Linked DNA regions of Homo sapiens. The protein of the gene in region 1 interacts with the protein of each later gene in a pairwise test. Each region holds a gene or a part of one and is shown on either strand. Other genes may lie near its edges.

The links.
Region 2: the proteins of MYL4 (region 1) and PYROXD2 interact in a two-hybrid assay, tested with the Homo sapiens proteins (one large-scale study listed by BioGRID and IntAct).

Annotation. Positions count from the first base shown.
Region 1 is NC_000017.11:47,217,607-47,221,763, reverse strand, and holds part of MYL4 (myosin light chain 4), read right to left. Parts: intron 1,861-4,157; coding exon 1,711-1,860; intron 83-1,710; coding exon 1-82. UniProt on the Homo sapiens protein: Regulatory light chain of myosin. Does not bind calcium.
Region 2 is NC_000010.11:98,397,428-98,402,668, forward strand, and holds part of PYROXD2 (pyridine nucleotide-disulfide oxidoreductase domain-containing protein 2), read right to left. Parts: exon of another isoform or gene 4,992-5,241; intron 2,831-4,991; coding exon 2,675-2,830; intron 72-2,674; coding exon 1-71. UniProt on the Homo sapiens protein: Probable oxidoreductase that may play a role as regulator of mitochondrial function.

The DNA of each region.
Region 1 (4,157 bases):
TAGGTGCCCTGCTCCTTGTTGCGGGAAATGTGCTGCAGGATGGGCAAGAACGTCTCAAAGTCCAGCATCTTGACATTCATCTCTTCAGGCAGGCAGGGTAAAGAAAGAGAAATCAATGTGAGCAGGTGCTCAAGGGAGCAGAGGGTCAAGAGGGGGCCTCACCCCAAGTCTGACAGCACCCAGGGCTTGGGCTGCAGCCAATTCTGGGTGGTACACCCATTAGTGCTCCTAGAGGACACAGAGCTTCCCATCCAAGCAAGGTAGGGGACTGGGAGCTGGGGAGATGGTCTCAGGGGCCCTCTTTTCTCAGTGAAAGCAGTAGGATGGAAGGAAAAAGGAGCCCTCCACCCAGACCTCTAAGCACCAGGTGGCCAGCCAAGCGGAGGAGCTGAGGGTGGCAGCAGCAGGATGTGAGGGGTCTGAAGTGCCACGCGGCCCGGGCCTCACACTCAGTTTAGACCCTTGACGTGACAGACCTATAATCACAGGGGCAAACCAACAGGATTGAAAAAAGCAACGTTTGCATCACTCTGCATGGGGTCCCATCACTAGACCACACAGCTTGAAGCTACTCTGAATCAATAATTCTTATAAATTCACAGTTCTCTTGTGAATAGCATACTTCTCCCACATGGTAGTGTATTTAAAAGGCTTTAATTTAATAGAGGCAAACTATTTTTAAATATCACAAATGTGGGCATTTCTTTCTTTTATAAGCACACAGGACTTGCTTCTGACTTCTGAGATGCAAGCCCCTAGCCCTCTGGTCCTTTCCTGCCCACATCCTTCACCCCCGCGGTTACCTTCAGCCAGAGGAGAAGGGGGACGGGCCAGAACCAAGGGATGGGGAGGAAACCACTATGGGGCCCAGGAAGCCTCCAGAGACAGACCACCCTTGCTGAGAGGCTCACCCCACCCCAAACCCCGTGCCAACACCACTGAGGAGAAGCATGTGTGTGTGTTTTAGAGCAGCTGTTAACTTGACTGGCACACATGACAGACAACATTCACAAACAGGACACACTCCCTCACACCTCTTCTCATCTGCCGTAATGATTGACAGAGGCACAGCTCACATGAGTATGAACACTCAATGATCACACTTAGGAGCCACAAAAGAATCGTTTGCACCACTTTCTAAACACTTACTCACCATTCTAAACACTCACTCACCAAAACCTATTGAAATGCAAATGAATGAAAGAGGCAGCACGTAGAGCTAAGAATCTTGAAGCTGCTCTAATTTATACCAAACAATTTGCAAACGTCAGTACTCTAACCATTATTAGAAACAAATTGTTTGTAATACAGCTCGCGATGGCCACCACAGGATACCTCGGTGCTGTGACAGATGCCCCTCCTGAGAGCTCCTGGGCTGGGGAGTGGGAACCATCAGTTATCAGATTTCCAGATTCCCACTCAGCCTTCCTCAGACACTGAGGCAACAGAATGTGGCTCATGCCCCACAGGAGCTCCCAACCTCGTGAGGGAAACAAGCCCAGGCTACATTCCTCAAGGGTCACTTAAGTACGGGGACGTCTAGATAAATTCTCAAAATGGGACTAGGGTAAGCTGGGTAGGTGAGGCTGGTCCTGAGGGGCTAAAGCAGGAGAAGAGAGAGTGCAGATGGCAGAGAAGATCTGGACAAGGAGGAAGCCAAGGGGCTGCAAGCCTGACCCTGGGAGAGGTCTGCCATGCAGCCGCACTGACCTTCAGGCTTGGGCTTGCCCAGCACACGCAGCACCTCGGCATTGGTAGGGTTCTGGCCCAGGGCCCGCAGTACATCCCCGCACTGGCCGTAGGTGATCTTCATCTCTCCAGTCGGGGTCCGGTCAAACAATGAAAAGGCCTCTTTGAACTCTGTGGAGAGAAGACCCAGCTATACCTTCCAATCCCCAGTGAAGGTGGTGGCTGGTGGCCAATCAGCCTCCACCCAAGCTGAATAGCAGGTGAGTGTGGTTGTTAAAATATCCCAATATTTCGCTTTGTCCATTATCCCAGGCCGTCCCTCGAACCCGTCCTCATCCCATCTTCTGTCAACCAAAGAAGCAGCCTGGTGCCTCCACGACCCATTCCAGGGCTGGGACTGGGATCTCTTCTATTGCTTCGTTGTTATAAAATTCCAGTGTTGGGAGGCTGCGGCCCGAGAATCGCTTGAGCTCGGGAGGCAGAGGTTGCAGTCAGCCAAGATCGCACCACTGCACTCCAGCCTGGGTGACAGAGTGAAACTCCATCTTGAAACAAAAAAAAAATTCAGATGTCTCCCTGGCCTCCACCCCTCCCACCCACACATCCCGCTCTGGTGTAGGTGAGGTTCCTGACTCCTGAAATGACAGACAAGTGAAAACAGCACTGGCCCAGAAGTGAGGATTCCTAAATTCTCATCTTGGCTCTGCCTCAGAGTGCAGGATAAGCTGGGCTGGGTCTCAGCTTCATGTGCACACAAAGGGAGTGACAACTACACCCCACTCCCTGGGCCTGTCACTGTGAGAGCAAAGGGAGGTCGCAGTGTGTGGAAGCACTTTACAAAGTGATAAGACCGCTGGAAAGTCAGCTGTTATCAGTACTGCCTGTTCCAGGCTGAAAGGCGGCCCCCAGGCCAGATAAGGCAATGGTCAGACCACCCCAGCTCTGCCATGGACTCGCATACAGCCTTGGGCAAACTATTAACCCCTGTGGGCCCTCATTTTCCTAGCTCTAAGTGGAGATACAATGATCACTTGAGTGGGTTGCAGGTGGGATCACAAAGCACGCCAAGCAATGTTCAGCATATGGTAAGGGAATCGACAAATTGTGGTTACAGCTGTTTCCTAGTTCTCTTTCCTACTTACCAGCTCAGAACCACAGGGACTGGACTCCTTGAAGGCAGCAGGGCAAGTATCCCTGCAGCAAGACCAAAGGAAGGCACTCCTGGTCCCTTTTTCAAAGAACCTTAACTCTTCATTGATTTGTTTTGGTTTTGTTTTTGTTTTTGTTTGAGACAGAGTCTCGCTCTGTCACCCAGGCTGGAGTACAGTGGTGTGATCTCAGTTCACTGCAACCTCCGCCTCCCAGATTCAAGCAATTCCTGTGCCTCAGCCTCCGAGTAGCTGGGACTACAGGCGCCCACCACCACGACACCTGGCTAATTTTTGTATTTTAGCAGAGACAGGGTTTCACCATGTTGGCCAGGCTGGTCTCAAATTCCTGGCCTCAAGTGATCCATCTGCCTTGGCCTCCCTAGTGCTGGGATGACAGGTGTGAGCCATCATACCCGGGCCCAATTCTTCATTGATTGGGATTCAACCAATTCATTAGTGGAGGTAATTTGGCCTGGGAGGGGCATTTAAGTTACCTTATGCTACCCACAAAGAAGTGCTTTACTAAGCAGATGAACAGTATAAGCCAAAAAAGAATTCATGAACTACTTAGGAAAAAAAGCCAGTTTTCATCCTTTCCAAGTACTTCTTTCCTTCGAGGCTGCGTATGGATTATTTACAAATCATTCCACATATCACAGAAGATTCCCCAGACCTTTACTTCCAACTCTTTCTTCGGCTTTATATGAATTTAAAAGACATAAAACCACATTTCTTTCACATTACTGAATAATCGAGTTCAAATTTCATTCCCATTGCTTGACTTTGGACAAATAAATATTTAACCTCTAAAAACCTCTTCTATAAATGGTACCTACATCATAGGTTTCTTTTTAGTTAGTTTTTTGTTTTTTTTTTTTTTTTGAGATGGAGTTTCACTCTTGTTGCCCAGGCTGGAGTGCAATGTCGCGATTTCGGCTCACTGCAACCTCCGCCTCCCGGTTCAAGCGATTCTCCTGCCTCAGCCTCCTGAGTAGCTAGGATTACAGGCATTACAGGCATGCGCCACCACGCCAGGCTAATTATGTATTTTTAGTAGAGACGGGGTTTCTCCATGTTGGTCAGGCTGGTCTCGAACTCCCAACCTCAGGTGATCAGCCCACGTCGGCCTCCCAAAGTGCTGGGATTACAGGTGTGAGTCACTCCACCCAGCTATCATAGGTTTCTTAAATTACATTCAAATTAATATAATAATGTATGTAAATATACTAGGTATATAAATACAATAATGTATGTAAAAATTTTTAACACAATGACCAGCACATAGTAAATGCATAAACAATGCTGCTAGTATTATCT
Region 2 (5,241 bases), on another chromosome or scaffold:
GGGGCCGCATCCAGCAGAGGGTCAATGGCTAATGCCAAGCGATGCATGAACTCCTCATATTTGGGAAAGACCTGGAACAGAGCTCTGCATTAAGGCCCCACTGTCCACATCCCTGCCCTCCATGCTGTCCCCAGATGGCCTGTCACCCCCCCACAGCTTGACGGTTCCTCAGGCCTCATTCCCCGCTGTGGCCCAGCTTGGCTCTGTTGAGCTCCCCCAGTTCCAGGTCTCTGGGTTAACATCAACACCAGGAAGAGTGCATGGGGTGGGGTGGTGGTGGTCAGGAGACCCTGGGCAATAGGAGAATCACTGGGAGTGGTGACAGGGACAAGGAGCTAATGCTGGCTAACACGAAGTGTCACCCACAGAAAACTGGCAACAATCCTAGGGTGTGGTCTCTGCGATAAATCATGAAACCACTTAGAAGTTTCTTCCTTCTGTCCTTTCTTCTTTTTTTTTTTTTTTTTTTTTTTGAGATGGAGTCTTGCTCTGTGACCCAGGCTGGAGGGCAGTGGTGCGATGTCGGCTCACTGCAACCTCTGCCTCCCAGGTTCAAGTGATTCTCCTGCCTCAGCCTCCTGAGTAGCTGGGATTATAGGCACCTGCCACCACGCCCGGCTAATTTTTGTATTTTTAGTAGAGACGGAGTTTCACCATGTTGGCCAGGCTGGTCAAGAACTTCTGACCTCAAGTGATCCGCCTGCCTCGGCCTCTCAAAGTGCTGGGATTACAGGCGTGAGCCGCCACGCTGGCCTGTCCTTCTGTCCTTTCCTATATTATTGGTAGAAGTTAGACCTCTTTGCCTGTATTCTTTTCCGGTCTGTAGGTCGTCTCCCATGCCGTCTCATCACCTGCAGTCACAGAAGCCTGCCTCCTCTCACCCCACAAGCTCCCATGTCAGAATCCACTTTCGAAAGCCTGGTTTCTGACACCCACCCTCCTTTCCCTGGAGGGCACAGGAGCAGTGATAGAAGCCTGTGCTACTGGAGGCCCTACCTGACTCTTCTTAGCCCTGGACTTTGAATTTTGGTCCATCTCTACCCATGGATATACCCATGGCATTTTAATAAGTGTTACATAAAGAAAAGTTCCATGTTAAAATACATTCGAGAAGTCTTATTAAAAATGAAGTTAAACAGCTTTCTCTAAGCAGGCCTTTAATATGACAGCATGGAAAGACAAAACCAGAAATCAAGCTCCTCACTTTCCACGATGGGAAATGGGCACTTGCCTCCAGCGTGTGTGGTCGCTGGCATGTAGGGCCACAGCTAGTGTCCTGCAGGCCCGGGGACCTGGCCTTGTGCAGAATCCCCTCAAGTGCCTCTGAGATGGGTAGGATTTGGACGAGAGGATGCAGGTGGTGGTCTCCAATCTGCTGCACAAAAGAACCACCAAAGAAGCACTTTTAAAAAAGCTAAGCTCCTCAGGCCGGGTGTGGTGGTTCATGCCTGTAATCCTAGCACCTTGGGAGGTGGAGGTGGGAGGATTGCTTGAGCTCAAGAGTTCCAGACCAGCCTGGGCAACATAGTGAGACTTTTGTCTCTACAAAAAAATTAAAAATAACATAGCCGGGCATGGTGGTGAATGCCTGTAATCCCAGCTACTCAGGTGGCTGAGGCAGGAGGATTGCTTGAACCCGGGAGGCAGAGGTTACAGTGAGCCAAGATCGCACCACTGCACTCTAGCCTGGGCAACAGAGTGAGACCCTGTCTCAAAAACAAATAAAATAAAATAACAAAATAAAAGGCTAAGCTCCTCAGGTGATTCTGATCATCAGCCAGGTTTGAAAACTGCTGGTGGAAGAGACATGTAGGCTGTGTGTCTGTGGTTCTCTAAGTTTTACCCAGCAATAGATTAACACAACAAAAGCAATGTACATGGGTTCTATTAACCTAGGTTCTTCTTATAAAAATGTCTCCACTGAGATATGATTTAATGCTACATCTCAGCTAATATCCAGGCTTGGTACAAAATGGCCATTCAAATAATCTTTCTATATCCACAGAACCAACTGTGGCAGGGCCCTTACGGAACTCAGTGGCTCATCTAGACAAGGCCACCCAGCAGGTTCCTAGAATGCAGTTCCAAGGGAAAAAAGTGCATTCTCCATCCGACATGTGTTCATCCTGTCACCAGACCTGCACACCATCATGGACACTTTGTTGCCTTGGGCAGCCAGGAGGGAGCCTTGGGATGCCACACTGAATAAATATTTAGAACTCTCCTGTCCTAAGTTCCTGATTCAGTTTATTTATCCTTAATTTTCTCTGATCTTCCCTCATCCTCCTTTTTGGCTTTCATGTGCTTTAATGTGGACAAACACCTGGAACTCTGCCTGAAAGCTGGAGGGGCATGAAGCACACGCCAGTGTAAGAACGTGCCAGTGCATTTCCTCTTGAACTCAGCAGGCACAGCCCCTCTGACAGTGGCCCCATACTGAACACACGCAGGTGAGCAGGCCTCCCAGTCCACTGGTCTTAATCAGCATCCTCCACCCGCTTCTCTTCGCAGTGCCTGAGATCAAGAGCTGCCACCAACTGGAGCCCTCCTAGGAACGTGGGGTGGCCTGGCGCAGTGTCCATGGCCTTTGAACAATTGTTCTAGGACAATCCAACCAGGCCCATCTCTAGGCTGCTGAGGGAGCAGGAGCTCAGTCACTGGTCGCCTTCCCTACCTGGGCATCCTTCTGGGAGAACTGGGCGATCTGCTTCTGGTTTTCTGCCATGTCTGTGCCCAGCAGAAGGCACCTGGGCACCTTGCTGCCTGCACCCTCTTCCAGCATGGGGGTGAAGGAGTAGGGGTTTCGAAGATGAAGCCTCAGCCCATGTTTCTGCAAAACACAAATAGCATGGGCCACATATTAATGGCTCTGTGGTCTCTGCCCATCATCTTTCTCCGATTGTGTTTGTGTGACCATTTAGGTACCTGTGTGTAGGTTCCCAAGTGTATGGTCCTGGTGTCTGTTTTTTAAATATAAGTTTATAAAAAGCCCTCTTGCCCAAGTACCCTATGGTAGACGATACTGTATCACATCGCAGTACACTATACCATTCTACACCATACCATACATACCACACATACCATGCCATACACCACGCCATGCCATGCCACATCATACCATACCACACTACATCACATCACACCACACACACCATGTCATACCACACCCTACCACACCATGTGATACCATACCATGCCATATCACACCACACTATGCCATGCCATGTCATACCACATCACAGCATGACACACTCATTCCATGCCAGGGACTGTACTAGGGTTTACAATGGTTACCTCACAATAACTTTGTAAGTACAGTCTTGCATCACTTAACGATGGGGATATGTTCTGAGAAATGCATTGCTAGACAATTTCATCACAGTTTGAGCATCACAGAGTGTACCTACACAAAACTAGATCTGATAGCCTACCACACATAGGCTGTGGGGTGTAGCCTGTTGCTGCAAACCTGCACAGAATGTTACTGCACTGAATACTGGAGGCAACTGTAATCCAATGGTATTTGGGTATCTAAACATGTCTAGGCTGGGCACAGTGGCTCGTGACTGTAATCCCAGCACTTTGGGAGTCCAAGGCGGGCAGATCAGCGAGGTCAGGAGTTCGAGACCAGCCTGGCCAATATGGTGAAACCCCGTCTCTAGTAAGAATACAAAAATTAGCCGGGCATGGTGGCACGCACCTGTAGTCCCAACTACTCGGAAGGCTGAGGCAGGAGAATTGCTCGAACCTGGAAGGCAGAGGTTGCAGTGAGGCAAGATTGCCGCCACTGCACTCCAGCCTGGGTGACAAAGCAAGACTCTGTCTCAAAAAAAAAAAAACAAAAAAAAACAAACATAGAAAAGGTACATTAAGAATATGGCATAAAAGGTAAGAAAAATGATACTGTATAGAGCCCTCATGATGAATGGAGCCTACAGGACTGGAAGTTGCTCTGGGCGAGTGAGTGGTGAGTGACTGAAGGCCCAGCACATTGCTGTACACTACTGCACACTTTATAAATATAGTACACGTAGGCTACACTACATTTATTAAAAAATTTTCTTCAGTAGGTTAGCTTACTGCAAACTTTTAAACTTTATAAACATTTTAATTTTTAAAACCTTTTTGATTCTCTTAAAAAGACACTTGGCTTAAAACACAAACATTGTACAGCTATATAAAATATTTTCTTTATATCCTCATTCTATAAGCTTTTTTCTGTTTTTAAAATTTTTTATTTTTATTTTTTACTTTATAACCTTTTTTCGCTAAAAAGTAAAATGCAAACACACACATCAGCCTAGGCCTACACGGGGTCAGGATCATCAATGTCACTGACTTCCACCTCTACATCCTGCCCCACTGCAGGGTCTTCAGGGACAGTAACACGTGGCACTGTCATCTCCTAGAGAGCAATGCCTTTTGCTGGATACCTCCTGACAGACCTGCCTGAGGCTGTTTGACAGTGAATTTTTTAAATAAGGAAAAGGAATACTCTCTAAAATAATAATAAAAGTATAGTATAATAAATACATTAGCCAGTGACAAAGTCATTTACTATCAAGTATTATGTACTGTATATAATTATATGTACTAGACTTTTTGACAACTGGCCACACAGTAGGCTTATCACCACAAACACATGAATAATATGTTGCAGTGCAACTATGGCATCGCTAGGGGACGGGAATTTTTTCAGCTCCATTGTAAGCTTATGGGACCACCACTGTATATAGTCTATCGTTGACCAACATGGTGGCACATGGCTGTCTTATTATCCTCATTGTACAAAAGCAACACGAGAGGCTCATAGGAGTTAAATAATTTGTCCCAGGTCACTTTAGGAGGTAGGTCTGGGTTTCAAAACCACAGCTCTGTAACTGCAAAGCCCCAGCTCTCAGCACCGGTCTGTAACTGCCCCACTTCAGAAATAAATAATTAAATTTAGAAAGACACAATCAAGCAATGGTTATGTGAAAATCTATACTTACAAGGTAGATAAATTATTCACATCAGAACATTTTATTTACTTTGCAGACTCATTTACTCCAGGGTCACTTTAAATGGAAGTTTCTTTGATGCATTTAAAATATGATTTGATTTACAAATATTTGATTAGCACACAGAATTTTCCAAGAGCACATCCACTTCTTCAAAGCAGGCACAGATAAAACAAAAGGGGCCTGTGCCGCCTCCAGTTTCTGCTGTCGAGAGGCTTCCTTCTCCAGATCCGTGGCCTGC